Linked DNA regions of Homo sapiens. The protein of the gene in region 4 interacts with the protein of the main gene of each other region in a biochemical or structural test. Each region holds a gene or a part of one and is shown on either strand. Other genes may lie near its edges.

Region 1 (3,500 bases), on a different chromosome or scaffold from region 4:
CTGACTTCCTATTGTGCCTTGCATAAAACATTTTGCTAAAATTAAAAGCAGCTCCAAGTGCAAAAGTAAATATTTGTGCAAAAAGGCACACTGCCAGGTGCAATCTTAAAACATCGTCAACTTACTCATTTTATAGTGTTTGACTCTTTTAAATACCAGTCTTTTAAATTATGAAACCTAGCAAGTAAGGGGAAGGAAGTTCACATCAGAAAATACACTTTAGAAAAGGTACAAGACATTTTGCTGGCAATTTGCTACTTATTTCATAACATAGATCAAGTAAGTGTTTGTTAAATATTCACAGTAATTTCAGAGAGAAACATATCTCCAAAACTTCAACCTATTGCATTTTTAACTATTTTTCTGTACAATTTATAAAACATCTGTCAGTGTTTTTCTGAATAATTCCTTCTTGTCAGTCCTTCCCTCTCTGGATCCAGTTATACCTTCAAGGTGGGTTGTAGGATTCCTTTCTCAATGAGATGAGTCTTCAGGGTTTTATATATATTTAACTGCTGTTCAGGTTGAAGCACCAACAACTGCTGTAGCACTTTGCTGGGATTTGGGCCCCTAATGATAAAAGGCAAAGAAGACAAGTTCGTGTTATTTTAATAGGGATAAGTGAAGCACATACCTCCAATTTAAAACAAACCATTCCTTTAAGTGTAGAGTAGGAATCTTTACAGAATTAAAATAGCTCTTGATAATAGCTCACTTTAATGTGCAATGTTAGTGTCAAGGGTTACAGCAGAGAGGGAGAAAGAATGCACAAACACAAAACACAAGAGCAATGTAAGTCAATTGAAGGGGTGCAGATCTAAGTTCTACAAAAGCTCTTGAAAGGGCAACCAAAGTTAAAGGTGGGGATAAATGGCAAATCTTGAGATTGAATGAGACACAAAAACTATTCTGTAAGGAAAGGAGCCTGGTGAACATAGGACAAACCAAAAAGAGGGCATGAAAATATAATTGAAATTTTTAACTTCCAAGAAACTTCAGATGATGAAAGGTATTTTGTTGAAAAATATCTCCAGGGAGTTATGAATATTCAGAGTCAGAACACAAAAGTCCTGAGCCTAGCACTGAAGCCCCTTACCAGTGATACAGGTGCCGTGGACTTTGTTCAAAGACAGTCCTAGGTGAACTCCAATATAAAAAACAAAATAAAAGCAGATCTGCTTTAAAATCCAATGGGAAAAAGCAACATACAAGTCATGTATAGAGATGGCATAGAATTCTAAGAAAGACATTTATGTGGGTAAATAATGTATGCCTTACAGTAAAGATTGTTCACATTGAATTATAGAAAGTAGAAATCCCAGCAACAAAGAAATGTTTGCTATTTAGTGTTACCACAATGAGGATGAGCAGAGGAACTATTTACTCTGAAAATCTTTGACTTAACAAATTGCACAAGAGCCCAGATGAGCCATCCCACCAAGGGTCATCTTCATGCACGTGGCTCAACTCATCTGCCAAAAAACTTTCACACTCAGGTCAGGACACTGTTCGCCTTATTTCATTTCTTTAAAAGAGTCAGCAACTTCACAGCATAAACCCCAAGTAGAGACCAACAGAGAAAAGGAAGGCTGCTTTAGCAAGTTCAGCTAAATGCAAAATTGTGTCAGCAGGTGCTCCCAGCTAGCTGCATCCTGGCACTCTCAGTGTCTTCTAACAGTCTAAATAGCTGCTTTCAAATGGTGGACAACATGGCTCAGCATGACACCTCCCTACTGAGAGGACAGCATTTTTTTTTTAAAGAAAGCATATGAGTTAATGCCCTAAAAAGCTGCCATATTCTGAAAACAAAGTTTTAAGGATTTAACCACTAATTACTAATACCCAAATAGATCAATAAATAATATGCAAATAAGTTAAATAGTCCCATTAAAAGGATAAAGATTATCAACTGTCTTATAAATAAAACAGGGAAAAAAATCAGCTATATGCTTACTAGAAAAAAGAAACACATTAAATATAAGGAAAAGGGAATGTTAAAAATAAAAGGAGAGACAAAGAAATAACATGCAAACACTGACCAAAAGAAAGCTGATATTGCTATTTTAATATTCAACACAGTACGCTTTAAGGCAAGCAGTAAAGACAGACATTATATAATGACAAAAGGATCAATTCAATGGAGAGATATGACAATCCTAAATTTGTACATACCTAATACAACCTCAAAATATATAAACCAAAAATTGGTAGAACTACAAATAAAAAAATACATTTACAATCACAATGAGAGACTTTAACAAAGCTCTCTTAGTAACTGATAGAACAAGCGGACCAAACAAACACAAAAACAAATAAACAAAAATCAGTACAGAAGATTTAATTAAACCTCACCTAACTGACACAGACAAAACTACAACCCAAAACTACAGAATACACCTTTGCCCATGGAGCATGTACTAGAATAGATAACATGCTGTACCACAGAATAGATCTCAAAAATTATAAAATACTCAAATCATAGAGTATGTTTTCCGACCACAGTGGAATTAAGGGAGGAAAGTGAAAAAATCTCCATTTGTTTGAAAACTAATGAATATGCTTCTAAATAACCCATGTGTTAAAGAAGATATAATACTGGAAATCAGAAAACATGTAAATAATGAAAATACAAATATCACAACTTGCAGGAAGAGGATAAAGTGATACTTAATAGTCTTCAATGGATAAATTAGATAAGAAGGCTAAAAATCAATAATCTAAGCTTATCTCCAGAATTAAAAAAAGAACAGCATATTGAACATTTAAAAAAGGCAGAGAAATGAAAGATGAGAGGAGAAATCAATGAGGTAAAAAATTTACAGTAGAGAAAATTAACAAAGCCTGGAGTTGATATTTTTGAAAAGATTAATGAAATTGATAAACTCGCTATCAGGACTGTCTCTCAAAAATAGTTAATATAAAAATTCTCACACTACTGTGGTACATATTTAAAATGTGTATTTAGGGATTGCTAAATATGAATTTCCTTCCAAGTACTATGAAGGAAATCCATGTTTTCTACAGCTCAGGTACTATTAATAAGCATTCTGCCTTCTGGGCCCCCAGTAGAGACCACAGAAAATAAAGTTAACATGCAGTTGATGTTAAGCCTTCACACTCACACTGGTATTTCAAGGCAGATCCAAAACATTAAGGTTTAATAACAAGAATAAACCACCCTTTCTAAAATGGCAATATTCATCCACCCATCCACCAGCCAGCCCCTACACACACAGGCATGATCCCCTCGGCCTGCTTTATTTTTCTGTGTGACACTTACAACCATCTAACAAACTATATTTATTTGTTTATTGTCTCTTTCTCATCATTCTTTCTTCAACTTCCAAACAAGTAGCTATGGGGGCAGAGATTTGGTTTGTTTTGTTCTCTGCCATATTTGTCCCTAGAACATTCTACAATATGGCAGGCACTCAAGTAATAATTGGTAGACTGGATGCATTTCGTTATCTCCCTTTTTAACTCTTAGTATTCATGATCAT
Region 2 (3,500 bases), on a different chromosome or scaffold from region 4:
AGCCTCCAGGAGCTCATGACGTGAAGCACTGTTCTGTCCTCAAGTACTCAAATATTTCTGATACTGCTGAGTCAGACTGTCAGAAAAAGCTAGCACTAACTCGTGTTTGGAGCTCTATCCATATTTTACTGATCTCTTTAAGTATTTGTTCCTGCCACTGTGTACTGTGGAGTTGACTCGGTGTTCTGTCCCAGTGCGGTGCCTCCTCTTGACTTCCCCACTGCTCTCTGTGGTGAGAAATTTGCCTTGTTCAATAATTACTGTACCCTCGCATGACTGTTACAGCTTTCTGTGCAGAGATGACTGTCCAAGTGCCACATGCCTACGATTGAAATGAAAACTCTATTGTTACCTCTGAGTTGTGTTCCACGGAAAATGCTATCCAGCAGATCATTTAGGAAAAATAATTCTATTTTTAGCTTTTCATTTCTCAGCTGTCCTTTTTTCTTGTTTGATTTTTGACAGCAATGGAGAATGGGTTATATAAAGACTGCCTGCTAATATGAACAGAAATGCATTTGTAATTCATGAAAATAAATGTACATCTTCTATCTTCACATTCATGTTAAGATTCAGTGTTGCTTTCCTCTGGATCAGCGTGTCTGAATGGACAGTCAGGTTCAGGTTGTGCTGAACACAGAAATGCTCACAGGCCTCACTTTGCCGCCCAGGCACTGGCCCAGCACTTGGATTTACATAAGATGAGTTAGAAAGGTACTTCTGTAGGGTCCTTTTTACCTCTGCTCGGCAGAGAATCGATGCTGTCATGTTCCTTTATTCACAATCTTAGGTCTCAAATATTCTGTCAAACCCTAACAAAGAAGCCCCGACATCTCAGGTTGGATTCCCTGGTTCTCTCTAAAGAGGGCCTGCCCTTGTGCCCCAGAGGTGCTGCTGGGCACAGCCAAGAGTTGGGAAGGGCCGCCCCACAGTACGCAGTCCTCACCACCCAGCCCAGGGTGCTCACGCTCACCACTCCTGTGGCTGAGGAAGGATAGCTGGCTCATCCTCGGAAAACAGACCCACATCTCTATTCTTGCCCTGAAATACGCGCTTTTCACTTGCGTGCTCAGAGCTGCCGTCTGAAGGTCCACACAGCATTGACGGGACACAGAAATGTGACTGTTACCGGATAACACTGATTAGTCAGTTTTCATTTATAAAAAAGCATTGACAGTTTTATTACTCTTGTTTCTTTTTAAATGGAAAGTTACTATTATAAGGTTAATTTGGAGTCCTCTTCTAAATAGAAAACCATATCCTTGGCTACTAACATCTGGAGACTGTGAGCTCCTTCCCATTCCCCTTCCTGGTACTGTGGAGTCAGATTGGCATGAAACCACTAACTTCATTCTAGAATCATTGTAGCCATAAGTTGTGTGCTTTTTATTAATCATGCCAAACATAATGTAACTGGGCAGAGAATGGTCCTAACCAAGGTACCTATGAAAAGCGCTAGCTATCATGTGTAGTAGATGCATCATTTTGGCTCTTCTTACATTTGTAAAAATGTACAGATTAGGTCATCTTAATTCATATTAGTGACACGGAACAGCACCTCCACTATTTGTATGTTCAAATAAGCTTTCAGACTAATAGCTTTTTTGGTGTCTAAAATGTAAGCAAAAAATTCCTGCTGAAACATTCCAGTCCTTTCATTTAGTATAAAAGAAATACTGAACAAGCCAGTGGGATGGAATTGAAAGAACTAATCATGAGGACTCTGTCCTGACACAGGTCCTCAAAGCTAGCAGAGATACGCAGACATTGTGGCATCTGGGTAGAAGAATACTGTATTGTGTGTGCAGTGCACAGTGTGTGGTGTGTGCACACTCATTCCTTCTGCTCTTGGGCACAGGCAGTGGGTGTAGAGGTAACCAGTAGCTTTGAGAAGCTACATGTAGCTCACCAGTGGTTTTCTCTAAGGAATCACAAAAGTAAACTACCCAACCACATGCCACGTAATATTTCAGCCATTCAGAGGAAACTGTTTTCTCTTTATTTGCTTATATGTTAATATGGTTTTTAAATTGGTAACTTTTATATAGTATGGTAACAGTATGTTAATACACACATACATACGCACACATGCTTTGGGTCCTTCCATAATACTTTTATATTTGTAAATCAATGTTTTGGAGCAATCCCAAGTTTAAGGGAAATATTTTTGTAAATGTAATGGTTTTGAAAATCTGAGCAATCCTTTTGCTTATACATTTTTAAAGCATTTGTGCTTTAAAATTGTTATGCTGGTGTTTGAAACATGATACTCCTGTGGTGCAGATGAGAAGCTATAACAGTGAATATGTGGTTTCTCTTACGTCATCCACCTTGACATGATGGGTCAGAAACAAATGGAAATCCAGAGCAAGTCCTCCAGGGTTGCACCAGGTTTACCTAAAGCTTGTTGCCTTTTCTTGTGCTGTTTATGCGTGTAGAGCACTCAAGAAAGTTCTGAAACTGCTTTGTATCTGCTTTGTACTGTTGGTGCCTTCTTGGTATTGTACCCCAAAATTCTGCATAGATTATTTAGTATAATGGTAAGTTAAAAAATGTTAAAGGAAGATTTTATTAAGAATCTGAATGTTTATTCATTATATTGTTACAATTTAACATTAACATTTATTTGTGGTATTTGTGATTTGGTTAATCTGTATAAAAATTGTAAGTAGAAAGGTTTATATTTCATCTTAATTCTTTTGATGTTGTAAACGTACTTTTTAAAAGATGGATTATTTGAATGTTTATGGCACCTGACTTGTAAAAAAAAAAAACTACAAAAAAATCCTTAGAATCATTAAATTGTGTCCCTGTATTACCAAAATAACACAGCACCGTGCATGTATAGTTTAATTGCAGTTTCATCTGTGAAAACGTGAAATTGTCTAGTCCTTCGTTATGTTCCCCAGATGTCTTCCAGATTTGCTCTGCATGTGGTAACTTGTGTTAGGGCTGTGAGCTGTTCCTCGAGTTGAATGGGGATGTCAGTGCTCCTAGGGTTCTCCAGGTGGTTCTTCAGACCTTCACCTGTGGGGGGGGGGGTAGGCGGTGCCCACGCCCATCTCCTCATCCTCCTGAACTTCTGCAACCCCACTGCTGGGCAGACATCCTGGGCAACCCCTTTTTTCAGAGCAAGAAGTCATAAAGATAGGATTTCTTGGACATTTGGTTCTTATCAATATTGGGCATTATGTAATGACTTATTTACAAAACAAAGATACTGGAAAATGTTTTGGATGTGGTGTTATGGAAAGAGCACAGGCCTTGGACCCATCCAGCTGGGTTCAGAACTACCCCCTGCTTATAACTGCGGCTGGCTGTGGGCCAGTCATTCTGCGTCTCTGCTTTCTTCCTCTGCTTCAGACTGTCAGCTGTAAAGTGGAAGCAATATTACTTGCCTTGTATATGGTAAAGATTATAAAAATACATTTCAACTGTTCAGCATAGTACTTCAAAGCAAGTACTCAGTAAATAGCAAGTCTTTTTAAATGCTGCTTTAT
Region 3 (3,500 bases), on a different chromosome or scaffold from region 4:
CCCGGGCCCTCTCATCATGGCCTCACCCTGCTCCGGCGCTCTGGGTGCTTTGAAGCAGACAGGAGACCCCCTCCAGGCTGGCCCGAGGGCAGGTCAGACCCCAGTCCCTGGGAACAGCCTGAGTGGGCTGTGCCTCCCCGTCGGCCACTGGCGCTCAGGAGGAGCCGTCGGGAAGGCCCCTTTGCCATCACCTGGTGGCGCTTGCTTGAGGGCTTCTGTGCCTTCCAGTCCTCACTGGGCACAGACTAGCTTCTTTGGGCACCTGGGGAGGGTCAGGCTGTCTCTGAAGTCAGCAGCCCTGCTGGGCAGCCGGCACCAGGAGAGGAGGCGGGCTGGTCCCCGTGACTGCCGGCCGCCGGCATCCACCTATGTGGGGCTGTGCCTAGATGGTGGCACTGTGGGGCATCACTGTGCAGTTCTGGGCCCTGCCCTCAGCTCTGGACAGCCCACCTGGACCCTGGCCCCTCGGAAGTGGAAGGACTGGGACCTCAGGGCCCCTGAGTGTAGAATGGGGTTTCCCTGAAGCTTGTGCGAGGTTCCAATGGCTGGAAACACCGTACCGCGCAGGAGGACGGCAGACCAGCATCTGTCAGGCCCCTTGGGGCTCACATGGCTGGTCCTCTGTGCTGCCCTGTGCTCTGCAGGAAGTTAACGGCACCCTGCCACCTCCTCTGTGCAGGGCAGCCCCGCTTTCACCTGTAGGGCTGGTGCCTGTGTCAGGCCCAAGCCCCAGGTCCTAGCCTAGGCTGACCAAGCGGCCTGCAGATCTCCCTGAGGCCTCACCCCAGGGATGTCCGCCGGGCCAGGCTGCCCTGAGCCAGCTGCCTGGGGCTCTGGACAAGATGGAGGCTGGGCTGGGGCAGAGGCTGCAGGGACAAAGCACGGATTGTGCCAAGCCGGCTGCCTTTCAGGGCCCGGCCTGCCAGGTCCAGGCCTTGTTCTACCGCCTCTGAGGGGCCAGTGTTCTGGGCCCAGCAGCTGGGAGCCAGGCCCCACCCACAGAGCAGTGCTCCCGAAAGTCCTGCTGTTAAAGAGAAACTCCTCGTTTTCCTGGACGCCTCCAGCTTCCCAGGCTCGTTCTGCCTTCAGTCCCGGGGCCCACGGAGGCCGTGGCTGCCCTACGCTGCTTTGCCCCAGGGGCCTGGGCTGCAGGCTGGGCCTGGCTTCCTCCCCGAACCCTGGAGAGTGACAGCACCACCCCCAGTGGATGGCAAGGTCCCATCGGTTGGCATGTGTCTCTCTGGGCACCATGCTCCTCGTTGGGTGCCACGTCCTTGGGCTGAGCTTGGGTCCTGTCTGCCCTGGGGGTACCATCCTATGAGGACAGAGCTGCCTTTCCTGGGTGGCCATGGCAGCCTCATGGCACTGGCTGAGGGGAATGGACACTTCTGGGATGGAGCTGGGCTGGGGTGGGGCTGGGTAGGGCCAGTGGGAGTTCTGGGCACCTTGGCCTGAGGGGGATGGGGGTGCCCAGGGCATTCACGCCATCACTGCCCACTTGGCTTAAGCTGGAGCCCAGGGCCCTGGAGGGCAGGCTGGCCTTCCCGGCCCCGGGCAGAGGTGGGAGGGCGCCTGGACGGCTGCCTGCATGATCCCCGTGATACAGCGGGGATGGCTGCAAGTCGGGCTGAGTCCAGCTGTGGGTGGTTTGCGGGGGCACAGGGAGCCTGCCTGGCCAGGAATGTCGCCTCTGCGGGTGTCTTGGCCTGGGAGCCCCCGGGGAACCCTTTGTATGGGAGAAGGGGTCAGGATAGGGGCTGGGGGGCAGTGCCTAGTGGCCCTCCATGCTGAGGGAAAGCCCCTCTTCACAGCTAGCATCGGGCCTCGTGTCCTCGGCACCCTGAATCAGCTGCAGGGCTAGCTGCTGCCTGAGCTGCCTGGTTGGGGCTGGCCTGGGCCCCTGATTGGCTGCTTCCCTGGGCGGGGGTGACGTTGCTGCCCTGGGTCCGAGAGTTATCTTGTGCGGACAGAGGTAATAGGTGTGGTACCCGCCCCGGGAAGGGTGGTGGCCAGGGTGGCCATGTCAGGCGCCTTGGCCCTGCCCCCTGGGGATACAGGGGGTGGAGAGGCAGCCCCAAAGCTGGGTTCTCAGAGACCTGGGGTGGCCAGATGGGGGCTCATTCAGCTGCCCCCTGTGCAGCCCCTTGGTGCCATTAACTTTCTGCAGAGCGCAGGGCAGCACAGAGGGCCAGCCAGGCCAGGGGGCCAGAGGTTCCCCTCCCACACAAGCTCCGAGGTGTCCAGACAGGAGGCGGTGGCCCCAGTCCGCATAGGCCTTTCCCCAGGGCAGCCCTTTCCCCAGGGTTAGGCTGCAGGCCCTGCCGGTGTGGCTTCAGGAGTCCTGGTCCCCGCACTCAAGCTTCCCTCCTGCTCATCTGTGATGGGGCCTGGGTGTACCCAGGTCCTTGGTAGGCGCCAGGAGATGTGTGGGGCCCCCTGGAGCCTGGAGCCCCCCCAGCCCCTCCGCTTATCTTTGGTGTCTGGGGCGGAGACTGGCCCTTGGCACCCGCGGCCGTCCCTGGCTTTCGTCCTGCGCCGTCCTGGGTCTTTGGGTCCCTCTGCCAGCCCCGTGGTGACTTCTTGCACACAGGGTTTGCAGGGGGGCTGCGGAATGACTCCGTCCCTTCCACAGCACACGGGCACCTCCAGCCAGGAAGGAGCTGGGCAGGCAGCCCCGCCCCAGGCCAGAGCCACAGAGCCGTTGTGACTGGGGGTCTCTGGCCAGGACGTTCCTGTGCTGTCTGTTGTGGGCAGGCCCCCCAGGGCAGGGCCACCTCCAGGGTACTTGGTTCCAGACGCTGGCTGAGTGGTCACTTGTGTCCACACCGCAGTTTCCCTATCTGTGAAGTGGCTTGGATAGGATGGTGGGGTGGTGCCAGGGGGTTGCTCTTGCTGGGACTGAGCCCAGGGCCTGGCCCTGCCACTGGGGCCAGCGTCAGCCTCAGGACAGCCGAGGAGGGGAGATGGCTTGTGGGCCAGGATGCCCGAGGGTGGGGAGAAGCAGCTCAGATGGCGTCACTGTGTTGCCTTCCCCCAGCCGATGGGATTTTTGTGGAGCTCTCTCTGCTGGGGACAATGAGAGGGGAGCCGTGAGCCGTGATAGGGATTGTGGCAAGGCCGGGCTGGTCAGCTGGGGATGCCAGGGCCGCACAGTCCCTCGGGGCTCAAACTGGCAGCTGTCCCCCCAGGGCTCTGGGCTGGTGAGGAGCTTGTCCTGCCCGTCCCTCTGCTGCCACAGTAACCCCGGACACATCCCATGTCATCTGCTGTGGCCCTGCCTTCTGCCGGGTGGACATGGGGGATTTGGGGTACAGGGAAGCAGTGAGTTCTGGGCCGACCAAATTCCCCGGTGCCGTCGGGCCCAGCCTCCTTCTTCCTTGGCACCCTGGGGTGTGTCGTGGCTGAACCCCAGCTCTGTGGTTCCCGAGGCTTTTCTGGGATGGAGGCCTCGCTCCGGGTCCTGGTGTTTTCACATAGCAGAGGAGAGTGCCCCAAGCCTG
Region 4 (3,500 bases):
TCCATCTCAAAAATAAATAAATAAATAAAGATAGGTTATCACATCTTGTTGATCTCTGTAGCTCTAGCATTTAGTAGAGTGACTCATACATATCAGGCATAAAATGTTTATTCAAGAATGAATTGTTGGCTGGGCATGGTGGCTCACGCTTGCAATCCCAGCACTTTGGAAGCCTGAGGTGGGTAGATCACCTGAGGCCAGGAGTTTAAGACCAGCCTGGCCAACATGGTGAAACCCTGTCTCTACTAAAAATACTAAAAATTACCCGGGTGTGGTGGTGCACACCTGTAATCCCAGCTACTCGAGAGGCTGAGGCAGGAGAATCGCTTGAACCTGGGAAGAGGAGGTCGCAGTGAGCCAAGATGGCGCCACTGCACTCCAGCCTAGGCGACAGAGCGAGAATCTGTCTTAAAAAAAACAAACAACAAAAAAAAGAAGAATGAATTCTTAATTAAACTAAATTTGGCCTGGGGATGCCTCTGTACTTGAGTCTTTATATACCAAGTTGCAACCTAACTTAGTACTTAAACTAACTGAAAGCCTAATTTAGAAGTATACTTTTGTATCAAAAAGCTGAGTCTCAGGAAAGCACAGCAGCTGAGCTTCAGTCAACCACAAGCAATCAACTGTTTAAACCATGTTCAAATAAGGCAAACTCAAGGCTGCAACCAACTGGGCTGTCTCTGTACCTCACTTCTATTTTCTGTACTTCATTTCCATTTTCTGTCCATAATACTGCCTGACCACATGGCAAACTGGAGTTTTACTGAACATGTTCTGGCTATGAGGGTTGCTGGATTCACTAGTTATTTTTTTGCTCAAATAAACTCTCCTAAGTTTAATTTGTCTAGTTCTTCTTTTAACAGAATGAAGGAATATGAAGAATACAAAGATACTACCACAGAACACTTTACCTTTGCTTCTTGATCTTTCAGGGAAAACTCCATTAATTCATCTGAAATCTCTTCTGCCTGGTCTTCTCCTAGGTTTGGATTTTTATCCAATTTTGGAACAGTAGTAATGGGACTGCCCAAATATTTCATTTCACTGTCCACCAAGTTTCCATTGTCCTGTCAAGTATATTGACAACATTAAAAACTATTCAAAATATATCAAAGTTCTAAATGTAAGAGCTAAAACTATAAAACTCTTAGAAGAAAAGATAAGGGAAAAAATTCATGACACTGGATTTGGATAATGCCACCAAAAGCACAGGTAACGAAAGAAAAAAACAGATAAATTGGTCTTCATCAAAATGGAAAACTTTTGTGCATCAAAGAACACCATTAAGGGAATGAAAAGGCAACCCACAAAATGGGAGAAAACATTTGCAAGTCTTATATTTGATGAGAGATTAATATCAGAATATATAAGGAACTCCTACAACTCAGTAACAACAACAATAACAATCAAAAGGGACATGAATAGACATTTCTCCAAAGAAGATATACAAATGGCCCATAAGCACATCAAAAGATGCTCAACAAAGTAATCATTATGGAAATGCATATGAAAATTGCAAGAGATACTTCTTTATACCCATTAGGATAGCCATTATAAGAAATAACAAGTGTTTGTGCATTGCTGGTGGGAATGTAAAAGGGTGCAGAGGCATTCTATGGATAATAGCATGGCAGTTCCTCAAAAAATTAAATGTAGAATTATCATGTAATCAAGCAATTCTACTTCTGAATATATACCCAAAAGAATTAAAAGCAGGGGCCGGGCGCAGTAGCTCACGCCTGTAATCCCAGTACTTCGGGAGGCCGAGGCCAGCAGATCACGAGGTCAGGAGTTCGAGAGCAGCCTGGCCAACATGTTGAAACCCCATCTCTACTAAAAATACAAAAATTAGCCGGGCATGGTAGCATGTGCCTGTAATCCCAGCTACTTGGGAGGCTGAGGCAGGAGAACTGCTTGAACCAGGGAGGTGGAAGTTGCAGTGAGCTGTGATCGTTCCACTGCACTCCAGCCTGGGTGACAGGGCAAAGACTCCATCTTGGAAAAAAAAAATACACAAAATAAAATAAAAGCAAGGACTCAAGCAGATTTTGTACACCTATGTTCATAACGGCATTACTCACAATGGCCAAAAGGTTGGAAACAACTCAAAATGTCCATCAACAGATGAATGGATAAACAAAATATGATATATACATACAAAAGAAATGAAATTCTAATACATGCTATGACATAGATGAACTTTGAAGACATTACGCTAAATGAAAATATAGGCTGGACGCAGTGGCTCACACCTGTAACCCCAGCACTATGGGAGGCTGAAGCAGATGGATCTCTTGAACCCAGGAGTTTGAGACCAGCCTGGGCAACATGGCAAAACCCTGATTCTACAAAATATACAAAAAAATTAGGTTGAGGTGGGCAGATCACATGAGGCCAGGAGTTTAAGACCAGCCTGGCCAACATGGTGAAACTCCGTCTCTACTAAAAATACAAAAAAATTCACCAGGCATGGTAGCACACGTCTGTAATCCCAGCTACTAGGGAGGTTAAGGCATAAGAATCACCTGAACCTGGGAGATAAAGGTTGCAGTGAGTCAAGATTGCACCACTGCACTCCAGCCTGGGTGACAGAGTGAGACTCTGTCTCAAAAAAAAAAAAAAAAAAAAAAAAAAAAAAGTAGCCAGGCATAGTGGCACACACTTGCAGTCCCACCTACTTGGTAGGCTGAGGTGGGAGAATAATCAGAGCCCGGGAGTTTGAGGCTGCAGTGAGTTATGATTGTGCCACTGTACTCCAGCAGAGGTGACAGAGTGAGACCTCACACACACACATGAAAGGACAAAATATAATATTATTCTACTCATATGAGGTATCTAGAATAGTCAAATTCACTGACACAGAAAATAGAGGTTATCATTGGCTGGGCAGAAACAGGGATGGGGAGTTATCACTTAAGGGTATACAGCTTCTGTTTTGAATAATGAAAAAATTCTGGAAATGAGTTCTGGTGATAGTCTCACATTATTAATATACTTACTGTCACTAGACTGCACACTCACAAATAGTTAAAATTGTAAATATTATGTACATTTTACTGCAATTAAAAAAAATCACATATAAGACTATCCAATAATTGAACATACTCCAGGTCTTCCCTCCATCCTAGAAACCAAAAACCTAAATAAAACATGATCAACTTAGTGGCCAGGCGCGGTGGCTCATGCCTGTAATCCCAGCACTTTGGGAGGCCGAGGCAGGTGGATCACGAGGTCAGGAGATCGAGAGCATCCTGGCCAACATGGTGAAACCCCGTCTCTACTAAAATACAAAAAATTAGCTGGGTGTGGTGGTGCACGCCTATAGTCCCAGCTACTGGGGAGGCTGAGGCAGTGGAATTGCTTGAACCCAGGAGGCAGAGGTTGCAGTGAGCTGAGATCGCACCACTGCACTCCAGCCTGGTGACAGAGCAAGACTCTGTCTCAAAAAAAAAAAAAAAAAAAAAAAAAAAAAAAACCATGATCAACTTTATCTTCAT

Evidence for each region. The genes of interacting proteins can lie anywhere in the genome.
Region 1: of the proteins of CDC25C (region 4) and CDS1, one has a biochemical effect on the other in vitro, tested with the Homo sapiens proteins (one study listed by BioGRID).
Region 2: the proteins of CDC25C (region 4) and MAPK1 form a complex in vitro, tested with the Homo sapiens proteins (one study listed by BioGRID).
Region 3: of the proteins of CDC25C (region 4) and BRSK2, one has a biochemical effect on the other in vitro, tested with the Homo sapiens proteins (one study listed by BioGRID).

What each region holds. Positions count from the first base shown.
Region 1 is NC_000004.12:84,645,627-84,649,126, reverse strand, and holds part of CDS1 (phosphatidate cytidylyltransferase 1), read right to left. Parts: intron 571-3,500; coding exon 441-570; 3' UTR 1-440. UniProt on the Homo sapiens protein: Catalyzes the conversion of phosphatidic acid (PA) to CDP-diacylglycerol (CDP-DAG), an essential intermediate in the synthesis of phosphatidylglycerol, cardiolipin and phosphatidylinositol.
Region 2 is NC_000022.11:21,759,646-21,763,145, reverse strand, and holds the end of MAPK1 (mitogen-activated protein kinase 1), read left to right. Parts: 3' UTR 1-3,489; downstream 3,490-3,500. UniProt on the Homo sapiens protein: Serine/threonine kinase which acts as an essential component of the MAP kinase signal transduction pathway. MAPK1/ERK2 and MAPK3/ERK1 are the 2 MAPKs which play an important role in the MAPK/ERK cascade.
Region 3 is NC_000011.10:1,396,434-1,399,933, forward strand, and holds part of BRSK2 (serine/threonine-protein kinase BRSK2), read left to right. Parts: intron 1-3,500. UniProt on the Homo sapiens protein: Serine/threonine-protein kinase that plays a key role in polarization of neurons and axonogenesis, cell cycle progress and insulin secretion. Phosphorylates CDK16, CDC25C, MAPT/TAU, PAK1 and WEE1.
Region 4 is NC_000005.10:138,318,305-138,321,804, forward strand, and holds part of CDC25C (M-phase inducer phosphatase 3), read right to left. Parts: intron 1,071-3,500; coding exon 915-1,070; intron 1-914. UniProt on the Homo sapiens protein: Functions as a dosage-dependent inducer in mitotic control. Tyrosine protein phosphatase required for progression of the cell cycle. When phosphorylated, highly effective in activating G2 cells into prophase.